Linked DNA regions of Homo sapiens: region 2 is linked to region 1. Evidence: fine-mapped expression QTL. A gene starts in region 1. The other region holds a variant in brackets. All regions are shown on one strand. Distances are between the middles of the regions. Region 1 holds the start of IPO8 (importin 8). Region 2 overlaps IPO8 (importin 8).

The links.
Region 2: its variant is fine-mapped to the expression of IPO8 in cerebellum (GTEx, PIP above 0.99).

The regions. Positions count from the first base shown.
Region 1 is chr12:30,690,316-30,701,924 of GRCh38, forward strand. IPO8 (importin 8) reads right to left here and starts at 5,554. Exons shown (of 25, transcript NM_006390.4): 1 at 5,249-5,554; 2 at 181-262. The coding sequence starts at 5,332. RefSeq lists a silencer at 5,304-5,353 and an enhancer at 5,444-5,943.
Region 2 is chr12:30,656,946-30,668,554 of GRCh38, forward strand. It overlaps IPO8 (importin 8), which reads right to left. Exons shown (of 25, transcript NM_006390.4): 11 at 9,230-9,306; 12 at 8,784-8,900; 13 at 8,275-8,364; 14 at 6,544-6,709; 15 at 5,382-5,542; 16 at 4,196-4,321. Among named protein-coding and RNA genes, the nearest start is that of IPO8, 33 kb to the right of the region's middle. The variant A/ACT (reference allele first, on the strand shown) is at 6,085.

The DNA of each region.
Region 1 (11,609 bases):
CAGTATCTACCTCTAAATTTCTGGGGAAAAAGAAAGTGAGTTTTGAAGTCACTGGAAATACTTCATGAGTGCTAGTGCTTCTGAATTTTTCAATAAATTACAGATATGTAAAATTAAAATAAAACTCTCATTCTACTCTCACCTATAAATAAATTTATAAAGGATAAAAAACCAACTCACCTGCCTGTCGTACTGGGAATTCCACATGGTCAGAGACTATAATCCGAAGTAAACTGGGGGCAAAATTGATAATCTTGTAGGACTGAAATTACAAAGAAATGTTTTATAAAATAGGGCAATATAAGTGAGTAGCTTATAAGTTAGCACCGGTTACTGAATACATTACTGTCCAAATAAAAGAAAAACTTTTAAACTGAGACAAACCCTTCAAGGCAAAATGAAGATTACTAAAATACTTCAAGTCAAAAAAATTTCCTGAGCAGAAACTGATGAATAAAAGAATGTGAACATTTTTATGATTTTTTTTAACATATTGTCAGAATGGTCTCCAGAAGTAGTATACCAATTTACACTCCCAACAGCAGCATATGGTAGTGTCCATCTATCTAATACAGGTATCATCATTCCTTTGAAACTTTAAAATTTTATTAATGTTTTAAATTGCATTTTCTCTATTACTAAGGAGGTTGGGTGTTTTCCTCTTTGTTGGCTGTTTTTTCTACAAATTCCTTACTCCCTTTATCCTTTTGTAAATGGAGTATTTGCTTTATTCTTAATAAATTCTAAGAGCTATTTATGAATTTAAAATCTCAATCTTTTATTTGACCTATACATGGCAAGTATTTCTTCCTAGATTATTTGTGCTTCAATTTTGTTTATGGTATTTTTGACAAACAGAAAACAAAAAAACAAAGGCTACAGGAAATAGGAGACCCAACAGAGCAAAACAGAGAAGATAATGTTACAAAGTTGAGCGTGAGCAATGGAGAGAAGCCAGTCCAGATTGGAACAGTGTGACTCACGAGATGGGGTTGAGCACACTGTCATCACCAGCTGCCCTCTACTGCTGTACTATCTTTTACACTTAATGCCTAAGTGAGCCTGTGGGGATGAAGCTCCTGCTCTGCCCTGTGGCCTGGGTCACTTCACCCCACAGGTGTGCTCTACTATGATCTGCTCCTGAGTTTGGCGATGGGGACCTTCAAAGCAAAAAAATACAGAGCATCCACTCCTTCTGATCACGTTATATCCAGATGTACAGTACCTGGACTATATTACAGTCCTGTCACATTCCAGAGTCCACATATGCCTTTGTCCACTGACATTCATTTGAAAAGACTCAAATTCCAGTGAGGCCAAACCAGACAATGACCCAGAGAGTCTGTTCAGCTCACCCCTCTCCTCAGAGCCTGGATCTGTGGGGGCATCCCTTTCAATACACAGCTAGGTTTGGGCATATTATTCATTTTTTTAAATTAAAATCACATCTATGAAGGTAAGTGTTTGATTAAAAAATTAATTTGGACACAACTGGCATTTTAAAAATATTAATCTTTTTCATCCAAGAACATTGTGCTTTCCCAATCTTTCTATATCCTTCACAAAATTTTGAATTATAATTTTCTTCCTTTCATCCTGTGTAGTCTTCAGATCACAAATCTGTGGCATGTAAATTCTTTTTTATCCATAATTGAAACCATCAGAATTTCAAAGCAGTTTTTAAGAAAACAGATTTGTTCTAACAACCGTTGATAGGAGGCAAAATTAACACAGATTCACCCAGCCTTCACCTTCTACATATGTATTATAACTCATGTTTATCTTTGTAAATACTGAAAGATCTTGTCATGAATCAAAGATTAAAACATCTATATAGTTTATTCTAATCATAAAAAAACTGACTTCCGTTATTTGTTTAAAAATCTTATTCCACACATACAAAATAACCTTTACACTTAAATAAATGCTACTTATTTGAAAGTAATATACCTATTGCAGAGACTTTTATGTCAACACTGTTGCCATTGTACAGATTTTGAAACTCCTCTTTTTGCAACTGTTTGCCATTTTAAAAAATTTCAGAAACCTTGTCTTCTTTCAGCATTGATTCATTCTATATTAACTTGGCCAGCTAAAACATTCAGAGATATAGTCAGATATATTTTCATACTACTTTACTCAGAAATAGTTACTCAATTTCTTTGTGCCTCTTCAGGCTTCGAGTTTCTAAAAAATAAATAAGACTAATTTCTCAATGATTTCCTGAGGATATTTTGTATCTGTGAAGTTTTCTGCAAATACGCAGTTTGCTTAACTAAATTCTGCATTTATGAGAACTCATAAAGCAAAAAACTGATGTCTCCTCCCATCCTCTGACTCACTGCTCCGCTGCATTAACCTTTCTAGTCCTCCAGCATGCCAAGTTGAGGGCCTTTTCTGAACCGATATTCCCTCTCAGTCCTCCAGCACGCCAAGTTGAGGGCCTTTTCTGAACTGTTGTTCCTCTCTCTGCTCTTTGCCTGGCCCATTCCTTCACAACATCCAACTCTCTACTCAATGCCATTCTTCAGAGAATGGCTATACATCCCAACACTCTTGCTCGGGCTTTACTCTCCACAGCACTTATGACCTGAAATTATATTAGTTACTTGCCTGTATCCCCAGCTCCATGGAAACAAACTCTTATACCAATATCTGCAACATAGTAACTTAATAAATATTTCTGTGCTATTTACATAAACAAATTATCTTAATAAAGGGTAATGAAAATTGCATGTACACATGCATGGAAAGCAGAGATTCAAAAGCTTGGCAATCAAAGTAAAAACTTATTTCCCTACCGAGGCCATGTGAAGGATAATTTATTAAAAGAGGACACCTTTCTGGATGAATTACTTAAGCAAGGTACCTACCCATTCCTATTCCTCTATGCTGCCTCTAATGGGACTTCTGGTCTATAGAAAATGAGGAAGATGTATAGGGTTCGCTCAATATCCTGAGATAAAACTACAAATACATTTTCCCACAGAAACAATATCACAAATAGCAGTCAGAAAACTACTCACTAGTAACAGAAAAATGCTGGCCTGAAAAAAATATATAGCTCCAAATGAGAATTTATCCATTGGAATATAGGCTGTGGTGCAGAAGCTGCTTATTTTTCTAAACGGCAATTGACAGATCCATCAGTATACCGCAGAAGCTGCTCCCATTCCCTATGCAGAACATACTTGCTGAGGGGAGACCTAGACTAAAGTCGAAGAGGTGGACCATAACCACTTATGGTGATTTACCCACTCATTTATCCAACAAAGTCGGATGTTACAGTGGTGGCAAAGGACAAGCAGGCAAAACCCATCATCATAAGCATGTTTTACTACACTGTTAGGTGACATTATATTTTGTTCTATTTACAGCCAATTCAAAAAACCTTAAAGCATTTCACTATGCTTTATATAAATTATAAATGCTAAATGAGTGGTATAGCAATAAGCTACCTTTAGAAATTGCTGGGGAAACCACGGTCTGTGATGAGGTGGGACACTATGGGGCAGGGCAGAGTGATGATGGAATGGATTTGGATTGAACTACCATCAAGAGTCTACGGCCATACCACCCTGAACGTGCCTGCTTTTGTCTGAAATACCATGGGAAAAAAAATAGGATTGGGTCTTAAATGTCTCCTAGTTCTGCAGGCTTTCTCATATACTTTTTCCACTTCTATAACATCAACTGTACTTATATACTGATGAATCAGAAAGAAATGAAGGTTAGGTGAAGGGCAGGGAAGTGTAACCTGATATCAAAGGAACACCTGGCCTCATTGTGAGAAGGGGGTCATAAACAGGCCAACTCCCCTGTTCATATTAGTAGACTGCAAATTCAGCTCCTGCTTTGTTCTTCCTAACTAACCCCTGGATTACTATTCTTCCAGCCAGCCAACATACAGTACTTTTACTCTGCAAAGCCTGGGACAGGTACTGACTTTAACTTCCCCCTATTCTAAGTGACAGTCCATTTCTTTTTCAGGCACCAGTGCATTATCTTTGGGCATTAGTTCAACCCAACCTCCTCTCCATTGGCAGTGTCTTCACTCTCCCTTTTATCTCTGGGGAATCCTGCATTTATACCTACTCCAAACTCCACCTAGGTTTCCTATTAAAATAATCCCTTTCAAAGATTCCCAACACGCAGCTTTTTAAAGTCAATTCCAACAGAAACATTTACTTAGGACAGTCACACTTCAGTCACACTTCGGGAGGCACAGAATCACCTGGGGGAGCTAGTTAAAATACAACTGGTCCCACCCCCACAGTTTCTGATTCGTTAAGTCTGGACTGAAGCCCCGTAATTTGCATAATTTGTAAGTTCTCAGGTGATGCTGAAGCTCCAGGTCCTGGGCAACGCTTTGAGAACAGCTGATTTTGGAATATTTACATTTTACAAGTCATCACAACCTAAAACAGCTGTTGCTCCATCCCAGTGGTAGCTCTTAATCCCTACTTTTTAGTAAGAGGTCTGTGATTCTTAAGTACCGGTAGGGAAGAAGAAATAAGCTGGAGTTTGGGATCATTAAAATTTTGAAGTGTGGGGGTAACGCTGGAAAGACGTCAAGGCTAATTAGGAAGAACAGGAGACGGAGAAAAGAAAGAAGTCTTACACATTTTAGCATTCATAAGAAATTTCTCCAACACATCTTACTTTGATGTGTCTTAGATAAAGCAGTATCACCATGAAAACTGCCTATTCTTCCCAGAGCACTCTCCCAACAGCACTGCCCAGCGCTCCGCAAAACTCGGCCAATCGGTGTCAAAACAGTCCTGCCAACCCGACAGGAGGAGGCGGTGGGCAGCGTGCTCCACAGCAACACCTAAAAAGGGCTGGGTTTGGAAAAAAGCTGAACTCAGATTTGAACTGTAAGTAAAATTCCCACCTGCTCCCCAAGTCCGCGCACTTAAGGAAAATAAATCACACCCTGAAAACACTAGCACAGGTTGCAAAAACTGCTTCTTGCGGACCAAGTAGGCAGAACAAACTGCCCTGGAGAAGGGAGACGACACGAAAAGGTGCAAAGGTGGCCAACAGGTGCGCGAGCTGTTCGGCAAAGATCCTGGGAGCCCTGCTCCACTGGACCGGGGGGCAGCGGGGTCGGAGAGCGGGACCAGCCGTGAGGCGTCAGCCCCAGCCCGGTGGGGGTGAGGACGAGGGGCGCCGGGGAGAGGGAGCCCGGCCAGCCGGCAGGGGCGCCCCTTCGGCGGAAGAGGGTCGCCGAAGACCCTCTCCTCACCTGGTTGAGCTCGTTCTCGGCTGCAATCCGCAACTTCGGGTCGATGGTGCCCTTCAGCGCCTGGATGATCCGGTTGAGGTCCATCTCCCCGGGTGGGGGCTCCGCGGCCCCCGGAACAGTAGGCCGGACTGCAGCTTTAGTTTTCTTTTGACCCTCTCAGCCTCCTCTTCCGCGACCCCTGGATTACCTCACACCCCACCCCCCGCCACCGTCGCCACCTGCGGCCACTTGCTGCGCCACTCTGACTCCGCGCCCCCTGTCCTCCCTTTTTCCCCCCCACAACTCGCTCTCCATTCACCGTTTTACGACAGCCGGTGGGAGGCGGGAGAAGGAAGAAGAGGAAGCAGAGCTTCCTTTACGGCGGCCTCTTCCCCCGGGCGTGATGCTATGACCGCCTCCCGTCGGCGGCCGCCATGCTGCTGTACGGAAAACGGCCTAGGCTTCTTTCCCGGAAAGGAACCCGCGCTCCCGAACTCAGGCAGGCGGCCGCTATGCTTCCGTACGGTAAACAGCCTCCCGCCTCTTCCCAGGTGAGGAAACTTGAGCTGGCCGGGAGTCTGCTTACAGCTGCTTCCAAATTAAGCATATCTGGATGGTGTGACACTTTTTGTTAGTCCGAGAACTGTATGGGCATCGCAACTGGGCCTGTTCCAAGATAGACTTGTTGGGACCTTCAAATCATGTACCTTACAGGAGGACAGGGTTCCTCCGTGTGTGGGAGTCATCGTTCATTCATTCATTCGCTTTCACTGAACATTTGTTAAACATATATTTTTGAACCAGAGTACTAGGATTTTTAGGTACCACATTATAACAAGATGAATTCCATGCAAGTTAATGTGAAGGAATTCACAACCTGATAGATGAGACAAATATAAACAAAAAAAATTTACAGTGTAGAAATGATAGGGGAGTGCTGGGAAGGGAAGAGCGTGGTCCCTTTAAATGATAGGGATGGGCGAAGTGAAGTGCTGGGTAGAGGAGTGTGTGGTCCCTTGCTAGGGCTCCACGCCCACCGACCTAGGTGAGGACTGACACTCCTGCCTTCCAGCCCAAATGTTGCATTTCCCAAGACCACCCTGGCCTGCCACTCCCCCATACTGTGCCTATGAAAACCCCAGACCCTAGCAGGCAGGTACACAGGCAGCCAGACGTCCAGAGGAGCATAAGGGTGGAAGAAGAGGAGCTCGCTGGCACATCCGCAGGCCATTCACGGGCAGAACGATGCGGAGGTTGGCCTGGGCAGTCGGAAAAGAGCCCGGGCCGCCAAGCGGCCTAACTCCAGAGGAAAACCATTTCCCTTCTGGGTCCCTCATCTGCTGAGGGCTACTTCCACTCAATAAAACTTTGCACTCATTCTCCAAGCCCACGTGTGATCCAATTCTTCTGGTACACCAAGGCAAGAACCCAGGATACAGAAAGCTCGCTGTCTGTGCGACAAGGTAGAGGGTCTAATTGAGCTGGTTAACACAAGCCCCCTAAAGGCAAACTGAAAGAGCATCCTGTAACACACACCCACTGGGGCTTCAGGAGCTGTAAACATTCACCCCCAGACTCTGTCAAGGGGTCGGAGCCCCACAGCCTGCCGGTCTGTATGCTTCTCTAGAGGTCTGAGCAGCGGGGCACTGAAGAAGCGAGCCACACCCCCAATGCACGCCCTGTGAGGGGGACAAGGGAACCTCTCCCATTTCAGAAAGACAAAGGTCACAGAAACTGAAAACTACATCCCTGAGAGTTTTATGAAAAATTTTCAGACCTTCTCAAAAATGTAGTGAAAGGTAAGCAGAAAAGTTATACTGTTTCTATCCACTGTGGCCATATCTGGCGCCACAATTTCAATGGCATGAAAATATCAAGGAGCTGGTTCTTCCTGAGGTTAACCCAGAAGAGAGGGTTCTAATTACATTTAATAAAGATGATGATGTGGGCAAAACACAGCTGAGGGGCTGTGATCTTTTCAGGAGCAGATAATTAAGATAGATTGGGTCAATTAACTGAGTTCAATTGAGAGAGTAGAAAACATGTGGCTGAAAACTTGGTGGCTTGAAAGCTTCCCCCTCAGTTGGATGCAAAAGTGCTTCACAGTGAATTTAACATGTCTAATTGCTTCCAGTATTGCCCCTCTTTAATCCATTATTCACACTATCATCAGAAGAAAGTTTCTGAAAAGTTAATATTACTATGTCTCTTCCTTGATTTCTCATCAATTTCAAAATAAAATATAAACTTAGCACTCCAGAGTCTTATGAACACTATTTCACTAAACCACTCTCTTGGACATCATGAATGTCTAAAAAATTTTTTATCTCTGAAAATCTTAACTCCAATATCCTCTTTTATAATTAGAACTAATTCTTCCATTTCTCTCTTCCTCAAAAATTCTAAGCTTGTTTTCCAATTCAATCACTACTTCAGTTCTTAGTCTATCCATTACTCACTACACATCATTCTCTGCTATTAAACCCCCAATTCAGCTTCTTAACTCTAGCCTTGACCCACTGTGCAAACTGATATCAGATGTATTCTTTAATCAGATGCAACCATCCTATTCCTATTCCTTGCCTTTAATCAGCAACATCTTCCATTCCCTCAGTGGCGTTTCAACTCTCAGGACTCTTCTCAAGCTCCCTACGCCTTCTCACCAAACCCTGCAAAGATGAGCAAAACCCTCAGGCTCAACTCAACAACAAATTCATCTCCGCTTATCCCTCTTCATCTCCTCTGCAGTCTGAACCCCATTCTCTCCCATCTCCTCCAGGACCCTGTTCCATAAATCTCTCCTCTCTTAAATACATTTTTTCATTAAAATAAATTTTAGTCATTATAATGTGCTCATTGTTGACAATGTGTAAGTTTTTTTCGTACTTTTTCAGCCTCTTTTCCTCCACTGATTCAACCTCAGCCTAAAAACATTTCCCCCAGCAAAAAAATAATCTTCAGTAATGCTAATTATTGCTCATTCTTTTCCACTTCATTCCAAAGAATGGTCTTCATTCACTGTGTCAGCTTACTTCCCATTCATGCTTCAACCACCTATCCCCAGGCTTCTCCCCCTCATTTCCCACTAAAACTGCCAAGCAAAGATGAACACCGACCTCTTTAGGGGGTATACCAACTGCAAGAGACATTTTTAGTTCTCAACTTAAATTTTCTCTCTCTCGCGCGCGCGCGCGCGCGCGTGTGTGTGTGTGTGTGTGTGTGTGTGTGTGTGTGTATGTATAGAGAGAGAGAGAGATTGAGAGATTGGGGGAGGGCGTCTCACTTCCATTGCCTAGGTTGTAGTGCAGAGGCATGATCACTGCTCACTGCAGCCTCGACCTCCTGGGCTCAGGTAATTCTCCCACTTCAGCCTCCCAAGTAGCCGGGACTACAGGCACATGCCACCACGCCCAGCTTTATTTTTAGTAGAGACAGGGTTTTACCACATTGCTCAGGCTGGTCTCAAACTGCTAGGCACAAGCAATCTGGCAGCCTCAGCCTCCCAAATTAGGATTACAGGTGTGAGCCACCACACCCAGCCTCTAATATCCGGTATCATATTTCATACTATTTTTAAATTATCTCTTTTCTTGTTTTCTCTTACAGAATACATTCCTAACCCTTTGATTACTCAATCGCCCAAGTCTTCGACGCTTCTCAGGACTCTGTCCTCAGCCATCTTCTCTTTCTCATCCACCCATTTTTCAGTAATTTCATCCACTTACATAACTTTAACCATCAACTAAACAAAGATAGCTTACAAAACTAGTTGTAAGATCTCTTCCCTTAAACTAAATATATCCAAATGCCTATACATTTCTACCAATATCTATCCCTCAAATCACTTAAGGCACATGTCTAAAACTGAACTCAGCACTGAAGATGATAGATTGGAGAAGGGAGAGACTTAAGGTAGTTATTCCAATAACATAAAAGGAGAGATCAAAAACGGTGACACCACCAAACGCTGGTGAGGATGTACAGAAACTGGATCACTTATATGTTGGTGGTAACATGTACAGTGATACAGCCTTTCTGAAAACAATTGGGCAGTTTCTTTAAAAAACTGAATATGCAACTACCATATGACACAGCAATTGCACTCCAGAGCATTGGTCCTAGACAAATGAAGACTTGTGCTCATAAAAAAAACCTTGTGAGTGTATATGCAGCTTTATTCATCATAACCCAAATCTGGAAACAATCCAGATATCCTTCAGTGGGTGAATGGTTAAATAAACATGGTACATCTATACCATGGGATACTACTGAGCAACAAAAAAAAAGATACATGTAGCAACCTTGATGAATCTTCTGAGAATTACGCTGAGGGAAAGAAGCCAATCCCAAAGGTTGCATCTTGTCAAATGCCATTTATATAACATTCTTAAAATTTAAAAAATATAGAAGGATCCATGGTTGCTAAGGGTTAAAGTGGAGGTGGTGGCAAGGGGGAAGTGGGTGTGACTGTAGAAGGGCAATATGAGGAATTCTGATGATGGAAATGTTCGTTTCTTGACTGTATCAATGTCCATATCCCAGTTGTGATGTTGTACTATAGTTTTACAAGATGTTACTGTTGAAGGAAACTGGAAAAATCGTACATAGGATCTATCTGTATCATTTCTTACAACTTCATGTGAATCTACAATTATATCAAAATAAAAATTTTACCCAAAGTACGTAATTAAAAAGAGCTGATGTTCCCATGAAAACTTTGTATGCTTTGGACAGACTCACTGAAGACAAGTTACTAAAATACAATGCTATCAAATTAGGGGTGGCCAAGAAAACAGGAAAGATCAGAAAAAGCCATGAGCTCTCGGATTCTGCTCTCAGATTTCTTGGCAAGCGTTTTAAAATGATTTTCCCTAAACTATAATTTATGTTCAACTTACATATGACTCATTGTTTGAATCTTTTTTTTTCACTTTGCATAATGAGAGGCTTTCTATATTTATTGATGCCCTCAGCTCGTTTCAGGTAGAATTTGAACCAGTGATATTGTCTTGTATTTTCATGGTTTGAAATATGCCTCCCCTCTCTGTGCCTGTTTCCTCATCTGCTTCCAAAAGCTGTTTTAGGGACTAGATGAGATAAGCCCATGGGACATGTGCAATAAATACATCATTGTAGTCTATTTAAGAGAAGAGAGGCCTTATTCAAAATTGCTGAATCAGACATCATCTCACACTATGCCTGGCACACAATAAACAATCCGTCAGCACTGGTTGAATGAGTAAGTGAATGCATGTGAGAGAGAAGGGGTCCAAAACAGGATATCCACAGTAGGCATGAAGGCCAAAAGATATAAGCCATTTCACAGGAAGAATCAACAGTAATTCGTGATGGGTTAGGTATACAAAGTAACTAAGGTAAGTCAAGAATGATTTTAAAGCTTCAAGCTTTGATGACCTATGGAAGTCATTAACCAGGGAAAACATAACTAGATTTTGGAGGAAAGATGAGTTAGCCTTTGGATGTATTGAACTAGAAGTGCTTACAGTTTACATGCCTAGAGATTTCCAGTGAATAACTCATCAATGAGCTGAGTGGGGAGGCAGGAAGCTATGGCCAGTGGAAGAGGAAGAAATAAAGGGATGGAGTTAAGAGAGCTGTAAGCCTTATGTGCACATAGGGCAGTTGACATCATAGAAGTGGATGGCATTACCCTAGAAATACAGCATACAGAATAACTGGCATGATTACAGCTCAAATTACAGAAAGTAATTTTTACTCCAAGCACTGACACTGTGGACTTTTTTGAGATTTAACATTTTAGTCATCTAAATGGAATATCACACAGCTGTCCTCCCCATCTGTTGGCAGCAGCTCATCTGTTGGTGTATGTTAGTAAGCTTGAATCTAATCCATACAGTAAAGAGAAAATGAGAGTTAAAAACCAACACTTGAAAATCCTATCTGTAAGTTTAATAATGCATCTCTTAAATACTATAAAGTTTATCATTAAAGACCTCTGCTCCAAGTGTCTAAACTGAGCAGCGGGGTGAGTGGCTCACAACTGTAATCCCAGCACTTTGGGAGGCCGAGGCAGGTGGATCACTTGAGGTCAGGGGTTCAAGACCAGCCTAGTCAACATGGTGAAACCCGGTCTGTACTAAAAATACAAAAACTTAGCCAGGTATGGTGGCACATGCCTGTTATCCAAGCTACTTGGGAGGCTGAGGCAGGAGAACCACTTGAACCCAGAAGGCAGAGGTTGCGGTGAGCTGAGATCATGCCACTGTACTCCAGCCTGAGTGACAGAGTGAGACTCTGTCTCAAAAAAAAAAAAAAAAAAAAAAAAAAAAGTCTATACTGGCACAGCTCTATATGATAAGCACTTGAAATATATCCCCTCGTATGCCCAAGGGATTGGTTC
Region 2 (11,609 bases), 33 kb before region 1:
CATAACAATTTATATTAGTTCCTTACCATATATTTTATACCAAAATAAATTCCTAATAGATAAAAGATTTCAGTGTGAAGAAATAAACCATAAAAAAATAGAATAAAAAGAATTATTGTATAATCCTGAAAAGGGAAAGTGACTCAAAGCCCAGAAATAAGAAATGAAAAGAATGAAATCATCTGACTAAAAAATTAAAGAATTTTGCATGGGGCATGGGGAAGTAAAAAAAAATGAGTGAAATATTTTCAAATGGTATCACAAAGATCAAATTCCCCTTACATAAAATTAGTGAATTTTTAAAAATTGAAATACAATAGAAAACAAATGTGTTTCTTTTTTTATAATCTTTGCCTGTGTTTATAAAAAGATGTTCGTTATAATACATGGTAAGAGTACAAATTCCAAGTGCAACATTAACAATTTTCACCTATTAAGACTGGAAATGATCACAATTATGGGGCTGGGAAGAAAGACCCTGTTGTATATTGATTTCTGGAGTGTAAATGGTATACACAATGAAGGACAAGTTGGCAACATCCTTCAAACTTACCCATACAAATGACGATGCAAACCAGCAATTCCACTTCAAGGGATTTACCCTTCACACATATTATGTGTGCAAAATGACACATAAAAGGCCATTCATTCATTTCAGCAATGTTTGTGATTACTAGCAATCAAATGCCCATTTAAACAAGAGACAGTTAAATTATATCCACTAAACCGGGACTGGTGAAATAAATTTGACACATCATACAAGGGAATATTAAGCAACCATTAAAAATATATAACTTTATTGATTGACATGGAAGGATCATCAAGATATATTAAGTTAAAAATGGCAAATAAAAACTGTGTATAGCATGCTATCATTTTCGTAAAAGAAAAATATACACATTCACTTTTTGCTTATATGTTAATAGAAAAATCTCTAGAAGGACCCGAAAACCTGGTTTAAAAAAAAGGAAAAAAATAGCTGCTTCCAGAGAGGAGAATTAGATAGCTGGGGAGTTGAGTGAGAAGGTAAAATTTCACTGAATTTTCTTTTCACATCTTTTGAATTTTTCAACATATGTTGGTATCAAATATTTTAAAATAAGTTAAAATCTATGACGGGTTACATTTTTCGTGTAAATGTCCTATTTCAACCATCAAGTATATTCTAATATTCAACTTAAACTACTGTCTTAAGGTTCAAATGATCCAAAATTTCCCACTTTAAAAAACTGTCAATATGCTTAAAACCATTAAACAAAAATGCATATGCTTAAGCACCTATTTTAGATTCACAATTTTGTGTTTCATACACTATTTGTCAGTGTTTCATAAATGTGGTTTTTCCTTTTAAGGAAATATTGTTTTCAAAGTTTGCTTTTAATAAGTTAAAGCTCAAAATCTTGGTCAAGAGACGAAGATTCCGGTTGGTTTTGCCTGTAATTATTCATGGCCTTGGTAAAGCCATTTAGCTGAAGGCTTTAGGTTTTTTTTGTCTTTAGGTAAGGATGCTATATTAGTGTGTCTCAATTTTCACCCATGCCTCTCTTGATAATCACAATAAGTTCACCTGTCCCTTTAACATTATTTGGAATTCAAAATAAATTTAATATCAAGAGAAAAAATAAAAACAGAAAAGATGCTGTTTTGTTTTTAAACTACCCCTGCAGCTCATTCTACTACGCCCCACACACACTTGTGAAAACTGGATAAGGTGATTTCTAAGGTCTCTTCAAATTTAAAATACAAGTCCTAAGTATAAGACAAAAGAACTATCCCTTAAATTTACTTGTAATTTAATTTGGAACATCTCACTGTTACCAAGAGGACCATTTAGTTTCAATACAGAAGGACACAAAAATAAAATAATGAAAATGAAAATAAAAATTAAGCCCTTTAGGCAAATGAAGACTAGTCCAGAAGAGTATCAAGCCTTTTTTTTTTTTTTTTTTTTTGGAGACAGAGTCTCGCTCTGTCCCCCAGGCTGGAGTGCAATGGCATGATCTCGGCTCATTGCGAGCTCCGCCTCCCGGGTTCATGCCATTCTCCTGCCTCAGCCTCCCAAGTAGCTGGGACTACAGGCGCCCGCCACCACGCCAGGCTAATTTTTTGTATTTTTAGTAGAGATGGGGTTTCACTGTGTTAGCCAGGATGGTCTCGATCTCCTGACCTCGTGATCCACCCGCCTCAGCCTCCCAAAGTGCTGGGATTACAGGCATGAGCCACCGCGCCGGGCCTTATCAAGCCATTTTTAAGAACCAAGTCAGCCGGGCATAGTGGCTCATGCCTATAATCCCAGCACTTTCAGAAGCCAAGGCGGGCATATCACTTCAGGTCAGCAGTTCCAGGACTGCCAGACCAACATGGTGAAACCCCTTCTCCACTAATAATACAAAAATTAGCCTGGCGTGGTGGCAGGCAGCTACTCGGGAGGCTGAGGCAGCACAATCACTTGAACCGGGAGGCCAAGGTTGAAGTGAGCTGAGATTGTGTCACTGCACTCCGGCCTGGGCAACAGAGCAAGACTTGTCTCTGAGCAAGACTTGTCTCAAACAAATAAACAAAAAAAAAAAAACCAAGTCATCTTCCATTGGCACGTCATAAACACAGGATAAACCAACAGCTACGGCTGGGCACGGTGGCTCACACCTGTAATCCCAGCACTTTGGGAGGCCGAGGTGGGCGGATCACGAGGTCAGGAGATCGAGACCCTCCTGGCTAACAAGGTGAAACCCCGTCTCTAATAAAAAAAATTCAAAAAAATTAGCTGGGCATGGTGGCGGGCACCTGTAGTTCCAGCTACTCGGGAGGCTGAGGCAGGAGAATGGCGTGAATCCAGGAGACGGAGCTTGCAGTGAGCAGAAACTGAGCCACTGCACTCCAGCCTGGGTGACTGAGTGAGATTCTGTCTCAAAACAAAAAAAAAAAAAACCCACAAAATCAAAAAAAAAACCCAACAGCTACATGGTTTAACAATGCTATTTAAAGTAGTAGTAGCAGCCAGGCATGGCGGCTCATGCCTTTAATCCCAGCACTTTGGGAGGCTGAAGCGGGTGGATCACCTGAGGTCAGGAGTTCAAGACCAGCCTGGCCAACGTGGTGAAACCCCATCTCTACTGAAAATATAAAAATTAGCTGGGTGTGATGGTACACACCTGTAGTCCCAGCTCCTCGGGAGGCTGAGGCAGGAGAATTGCTTGAACCCGGAAGGTGGAGGTTGCAGTGAACCAAGATCATGCCACTGCACGCCAGCCTAGGTGACAGAGTGAGACTGTCTCAAAAAATTAAATAAACAAATAAAAGTAGTACTAGCACCTGCTTCCTAAGTGCTCACCTTGTAAAACAATAATTGCCATCAGTGCCAAACAAGTCAACTTGCACTCACAGAAGCAATGAACAAAAATCTAATTTGAGTTAAGGAGAGGCCATGGGATACTTGGGAAGCAGCTGTAGGTTTTAAATGGGGATAAACTGATACATTATCAAAATGATGTGACTACAAACCCAAATGTACAACTTACTAGCTCTGGGACCATGAGCAAGTTTCTTAAATCCACCTGAACTTTGTTTTCTGCTTCTGCAAAACAGACTACCATTACCTGTGCTAGCTATGTCATGGTGGCACCAGTAAGATCATATCAGCTGATGGATGTGAAAGCACTAGATAAATAGCTGTATAAAGTCTTATCCCAATAACACTTTGGAATTCAGTTGAGTAAATATGCTTTTCAGCTCTTTCATTTATTCCTTTCCATTTTTACAGTACTTGTTATATCAGAATTCTGTTCCATTACCTAACACTTGCCACTGTGATTGAACTGCTGTCTGTCACTCTCTACCAAGAATTCTAGATTGTTGGTTCCCAGAAAGCTGGGCTCATTTCTTATTCAATTTGGTATTCCCCAAGAACCTAGCCTGGCACATAGCAGATATGATTAACTGAACTCAAGTTAATATAAAGGGATATACTATATACTTTATAATATTTACATTATAATATTACAAATATTATGATGTAATATTATAATGTTACTCAGTCATTTTAATATGTTTCCATAAAATGTGAGGGCAATTTTTAAAGCCTAGCAACATAACTAAGTAGCAATTTAAAAGTGGAGACTTCAAAATTCATGGCCACTGATCACATAAATTTCAGTTAAATGCTACTATTATATCATAAACCACAAAGAAATCTCACCTCTTTATGATCTTCTACAACTGTTAAGATAGTATCAATGGTATGTAAAATTCCCATAGCCATTACTGTTTTGTCTTCAACTTCTTCATATTCATCACTTTGAAGAACTTTGCCAAATATCTCAGCCTATGAAAATAACATTAAAGTATTCCGCAATTAGTAGTACTGTTACGTCCCCGCTTTACAAAAGTTAGCAAAATGGCAGTGTCACACATCTGAAGTCTGCATTGCTCAAACTTTGAAGTCTGCACTTTGCTGACTGAATCATCTCTCTTCTTAAAATAACAGAACTTGTCATGTTTTAAATATAGCTATTTACATTAACTATTATATCCAGAGAGCTAATATTTAACTTCTGGTTGTCACTAAGCAAGTAAAATCACAATCTAGGACAAGTGAAATCAAGTAATAGTAAAAAGAAAAATGCAATAGAAGATTGAGAAGTCGAGGAATCACTTAGAAAATGAAACAAACAAAAAAAAAAAACAGACATGGAAAACAGGAGGAAAAGTTTTTAAAAAAATTAAGAGACACAGTCCAGATGTGATTCTCCATATCAGGAAATACAAACAGAAAAAAAAATAGTAAGGAGAAATTTATCAAAAAAGTAAAACAATAAATTGCCCCAAACTGAAGGAAATGAGCTTCCTGATTCAAAGCCCAGAAATTAAAACTTTAGAAAGCACATATTATAAAATTTCAGAATATTCTAGATGAAAGAAATTATCCTAAATGTGATTAAAGTCTAATGAACTATAGTAATATCAGAATAATTTTTTTATCAATATTTCAGTTACAGTCATGCATCGCTTAACATGGATATATTTTGAGAAATGTGTCGTTAGGCAATTTCATCCTTGCTTGAACATCATTGAATGTACTTAGGCAAATCTAGATGGCATAGCCTATTGCTCCAAGGCCACAAACCTATACAGTTTGCTAATGTAGTGAATACTTAGGCAATCATGACACAATGGAATTATTTGTATCTAAACATACAAAAGGTACAGTAAAAATACGGTATTATAATCTTAGGAGTGCACCATCGTATATGCAATCTGTCATTGACTGAAATGTTGTTAAGCAGCACATGACTGTACAAATAAAACTGAACTCCATATTTTGGAGTTTATTTAGATTACTCAAGGTTTCTAAACCAAATTAACATAAAACTGCCCGGTCTTACCAAGTGTTGGGTCATATCAACAGCAATTGAGGCTACCTCTTGACTGTATTCACATATCATCTTCTGGATGACATTAGTAACATCATCATTTTCTGTCTCTCTAACAATGTGCAACAGTTCCTGCATAATAGGCCTCACATGTGGCTTCATATATTCCTTAGCTAATTCAATAAAACAAACAAAAGTAATAAAAATTACCATGCCCAGATGATAAAAGGAATTAACTTGGTCACAAGGTCAAGTGACCCAGGGTAATACCTAAATCAGGTTCTAGATACACACTTGCTCTGTGGTAAGTTACAAAGCTGTACCTAAATAATGTTCACCAATATATCAGTTTCCCAAGAGTAATATAAGGATAAGAAGTCCTGCACAGGAGAGAACTGTCCTGTGCAGAAACTATCCCAAAATACTAATAGCCCCCACTGAGAAATTCTAATTATACATACACTTGGTCATCAGAATGACTTGGAAAACATGAATCAGTTCTCATGACAAGTTATAAAAAATCATGTACGTGAAGACTATCCCGAATACTGATGGGGCCCCTTCCCTGCCCCAGGCCATCTCTACCACCCTCCCTTGCCATGTGTACAATATCCAATCCTCCCACTGAAACATTGCTGAATAGAGGCAAACTACGTTCACGTTCTTCATAAAGCTGAACTTACTTTCAAAGGTTTATTTGAACTTTGATCAGAAC[A/ACT]CTGAACAAATGAGACGTCTGTTATCACTCACTAGAAATACTACTTGCTACTTTCAAAACTAGGGGAATCAGAATCCCAGAGGTGAAAGGAATCATGAAGTCATTCAGTCCAACTCCCCTAAACTTAAATATGTGGAAACCTGAGCCTTGACAGATCACACACCTTGCCCAGGTTTCCATGGCAAGTTAGGAGCAAAATCAAAACTGGGCCCAGGTCTCTTTATGCCCAGCCTATCCTAGGGCCCCACAATGATTAACATGTTTCCTAACCTAAAATTCTGAAAACTACAGTCAATAGGAACACCTAAAAAGGACAAGAATAAATTCCTACAAAATTCTGAGAGGGCAAAACCTCAGAATTCCAAACCCTGAACCCTCAGACATGGAGATGCATCTTCATTAGGGAAGAAAGTAAATGAAATTATTTGAGAAGATGTCTAAAAGGTATTTTGGCTTTACCTTGTATCTGGTTAGAAATTAAAGACTGAAGAGCAAGGGCAGCTTCAACTTTGACAGGCATCTCTTTATCTTCAATCAGGCTCTTCTTCGCTAATTCAACGGCATTTCTTAGATTGAGCTCATTATGGAACTTCAAAGAACTAAATGCATGAAGTACCCAGCAAGACTGTATTATTAAAAAAGGTAAGTAGGGAGCTATTAGGATTATAGCATTCTGTAATAATATCACAGATATAAGAACTTCTTAGTAAAATATCAATTCTATGAAGAAATGTTTGCTTTTGGGGTAACACAGTAGCCTTAGTTTCTAACTTCTACATCCCCCTTTTTACAAGTAAGGCATTTTCATTACTTCTAAATTACCCATATGCAATAACATTTTTCATAGGAAAGAGAAAAAGAAGCCAAATATGTCTTTGACAAAAATCTATTTACGCTTTTAATAAATATTATAACTCATAATTAATTTGTTATATGTAAAAGCAACTCCAAACCAGTATCTGAAATTCATTTGTCACACTTAGGTAAAACATTATTTTCCCTTACACTAACTGGTTTAGTAAGCTTCCTTTTTTTCACTCTCATAGGTACCAAAAATTTTAAACCTGGTATAGATGATCACATTTTAACTATTAGACCACAGAATCATTATTATATTTTACTCTCTGTGTGCATCAAACACAATCAACAGAAATTAATTCTAGTTACTAAAGACTTTTAGCAAGAGAATCACAATTCATATAACTTCTCAAAGGTAGGAGCCCCACTGTAAAAATGCTCATGTGCCCTCAGCGTCCCTAGTCCACATTTGCCCAGATATTGCGCTAGTAACTATTATTTTATAAAATGCTTTCTAGTGTACAAGGCATTGTTAATATATGTTGTTTTTAGCAAGACATTTTTGTGTTGATATATTTATAAAGAGAAATGCTAGGCTCTTGAATAAAAGTCCTGTTTCTATTTCTCCATAAAATATATTGATTCTAAAAGAATATACACATAGAGCACAATTTCACATGGATTATTAATCTCTCCATTTTACTAAGGCAAATCTACCTAATATACTGAAAATCAAATTCAAGTTCTTAGCCAATCTGGAATTTCATGTCATTTTATACACAAAATAAATCCATTTGTGAATTTAAATTGTATCACTGCTATAAAATCACCTTTCTCATTTCATGTTTTACATATGCAGCAAGTGAGGCTAGGGTGACAAATGAAATAAAACCAGCAGGAAATAAAATCCATAAATATTTTCCTTTTTTTTTGAGACAGGGTCTCACTGTTGTCCAGGCTGGAGTGCAGTGGCACGATCTCAGCTCACCGCAACCTCCGCCTCCCGGGTTCAAGCAATTCTCCTGGCTCAGCCTCCCTAGTAGCTGGGATAACAGGCGCCTGCCATGAAGCCCAGCTAATTTTTTGTATTTTTGTAGAGACAGGGTTTCACCATGTTGGCCAGGCTGGTCTCAAACTCCCGATCTCAAGTGATCCGCCCACCTCAGCCTCCCAAAGTGCTGGGATTACAGGCATGAGCCACTGCGCCCAGCCTATAAATCTTTTTCTTTAATAGTCTGTCCTTTATTCAGCTGATGTGACCATAGGCAGACATTCTAATTGACTCTATTTCATCTCAATATGTGGCAAAAGGTCAATTTATCCAAAAAACATTTATTTGAATAATTATCTTATGAAGATTTAAGATACATAACAGAAATATGAAAAACTTACTCTAGCTCGAAGATATCCCAGGTTAGACAATAATAATGGAAATACATGATTTTGTAGAAACAGCTCCATTTGGTCCTTGAATAAACTCTTCTATTAGGAAACAAATTTCAACTTATCAATTTCTTTTTCATACGTAAGAATCACTTCCTAATCAAGTGTGTTTACTATGACTTGCATTTAATATACTTCTAATTTTGTAAAATTATTTGACCTATATATTGCATGTTTTAAAACAAGACAAATATTACCTTATATCAGTTTGATATTGATTGATTTTGTAGACATAAGATACTTTGTATCCCTTTCACATATCAATAGTTTCATACTGAAAACTTTAAACAGTCAAATTTTCTTTTTAATTAAAGAAATAGATGACAGAAAGGAGGATAGTTGTGAACTCAATTATCCAGAGGTAGTCACCAGCTTTAAATTAGCCATAACTTTCATATTCTCTCATTTGCCTGTACTTTACAATGTTATTAAGTAAATTAAATTTTGATTATCTTAACCTTCAGTAAAATCTCAGCTAGGGAACCAATCACATGCAGGGCTCCATCTTTCTTCCTAGGGTCAAAGTTCGGGTCTGTCAGGATTTGATAACAGAATGCCATCATTTTTGGCAACACCTAAAGAAACAGAAGAATCCATTTAGTCTACATGAACTTTCATTGTCTTACTATAGTATTAACTATGATGCACAAATTTTTAAAAATAAAGCCATTTTATTATGTTTTATCAAGCAACTATAAGCTCAATAAGAAAAGTATAATTTATTAAGAAAACGAAATAACCATGATACCCCCTTTCCCCTCACCAGGAGAGGAAAAAAAAAATCCTTAAGGTGACAAATTATAACGAATAACAACATAATTTCTCAAATACTAGGGATATACTAGAGTATCAACTCAACACAGGCCACCTTTCAGTTTTGGATTTAAAAAGAAAAATGAAATACCTCTTTTCTTTTCTTTGCAGCAGTATATAAGAGAGTCTGGGCTGCTGTGGTGGGAGAAGCATAATCTTCAAAAATATCTAAGATTTTAAAAGGTTAAAACCATGTTAGTGAAAATATAATTACTTATTCTAGATTTTAAACCTGACTGACCGCTATTCCAAACCAAAAAAATAAAACCATCCACATATGACACTGCTTGACAGTACTAAAAAGGTAAGGATATACAGTGGCACCACAACATTGCTGTCTCCTGCACAAAACAATGTTCCTCAAACTCTACAGGTTGTCCTTTCAAACTATTATATTGAAGAAAACAATGCATTTACACATCTGTTTCACTGAGAACAGAAAAAGTGCTTTATTTCTATCAAAAAACAACAAAAATTCACTCAGCTCTTACTATGTGCCAGGTACCATTCTAGACCCCGGGGATACAAAGATCAAACAAAAAGGTTCTCACGGAGCTTATGTCGTGAAACAAAGAAACACATTATACATATATACACACATAATAAGTCAGGCTAAGAACAAATGTAAAATAGGGTAAAGAGACAGAGTGACAGAGTATGGGGTGCTAGTTTAAATAGGGTGTTAGCAAAAGCCTCTCCAACTCTGTTAAGGTAACATTTAAGCAGAAATTGAATGAAATGAGGGAGAAAGCAATCCATGGATAAAGTACTCCAAGCAGGTGAAACAGCAAGTATAAAAGCCTTGAAGGACTGCTAGGACCATGCCTGGCTCTGTCGATACGTAAGTTCAGCAGGTTTTGTTGAATATATACCTATCTAAAACTTAACATATCACTTAATACCATGAACATTTTCACAAGTTTCAGAATAGGCAGTTTTACATAAGAAACTGAAGTCTTGAGAGGTATCTGATAAGTCCTTGTTTAAATACAAAAGATAAAACCAAATCTAAGTCTACCTCAAAATATAAAATACAAACATAATAAGAACATTTTTGGAGTACTGTACTTACTCTGTGCCAAGCAGTATGCTACAGTTTTAGAAGCATCTTGTATTCTATGCTAAGCAGTTAGTTCATGTGTATTATCCCATTTAATCCTCCCAGCACTATTATCATCACCCGTTTGACAGCTGAAAGCACTGAATTTTAGAGAGGTTAAGTAACCTGTCCACAGTCACACAGCAGGTAAGTGACCAAACCAGCATTCACACCCACGCTATCTTAACATCAAAGCCTGAGCTCTTGTTAGTTCTTACCAAATCAAAAAACATTATTGGGGGAAGTGAGGAGATGTTGGTTAAAGAGTAGATAAAAAGAATAAACTAAAACATTATTATTAATCAGTCAATACATTTAGATAGGAATGCTTTGTTTCACGTAAATAATTGCAAGTGCCAAACATATAAAAAGAAAATGCAGTAATTGTTCTTCCCTATGGTTACCCAAAAGTAAAATACACATATCAAATAAAAGCCACTGCATTCCAGTCTACAGAAGGAAACGATTAAAGAAAACTCACTTCAGCTAGTCAGTCTTGAGTTACCCATATCCGCTTTTAAACAATAAAATGTAAATTCCCACTGTTAATCAACAGACATAGAGTTCTTATTTTCTAAAAACTAGGGTATGTATACCTATCTTATCAGATATGAAGAATATATAAATAATGGTAACTTTCTGAAAGCTAAACAAATACTCTGTACATCACAAAAACACATAGGTATTATGAAAGAAGTAAACACTAAAAGAATGCCTTGCAAGGCAAGAGGATCACTTAAGCCAGGAGTTCGAAACCAGCCTGGGAAATACAGGGAGACCCTGTCTCTGCAAAAAATAATTAGCCAGGTGTGGTGGCACATGCCTGTGGCCCCAACTACTTGGAGGCTGAGGTGGGAGAGTCACTGGAACAAAAAAAAGAGAGAGAGAGAGAGAGAGAAGAATGGTTGGCTAATCACTCAAAGCAAACTAGAAAAACAAAGGCATAAGAAAGGGGAAATAATAAGTTACACATATGAATAATGATTTTCAAAAGAAAAATAACAAATCAAGCAGATGATAAATGTTTCTCATTGATTTGCTTTTCTGATACTTTGTCTCCAAGAGAAAACAGGATCCTCACTTACTGAATCAAATAATATAAACACAAAGCTCTGTAAAAACACAGCCCAAAAAACTAGCATCTGTACCAGTAGGTTTAGCTTACGTAGCTAGACACACCTGGCTCAACTAAGGGGAAAGCACTGCTTCATTACAGCACTTTCAGCACGCAGCGCTAGATTTAGCAATCATTTCTTTCAACATGTATTGAAGGCATACTGGAGGCCAAGCACTAGTGGAGGAATGCAGAGGTGTAGAAGAGACAGAAAATGCAAAATTAAGCAAATAAGGTAAAATTCCTGTCCTGAGAAAG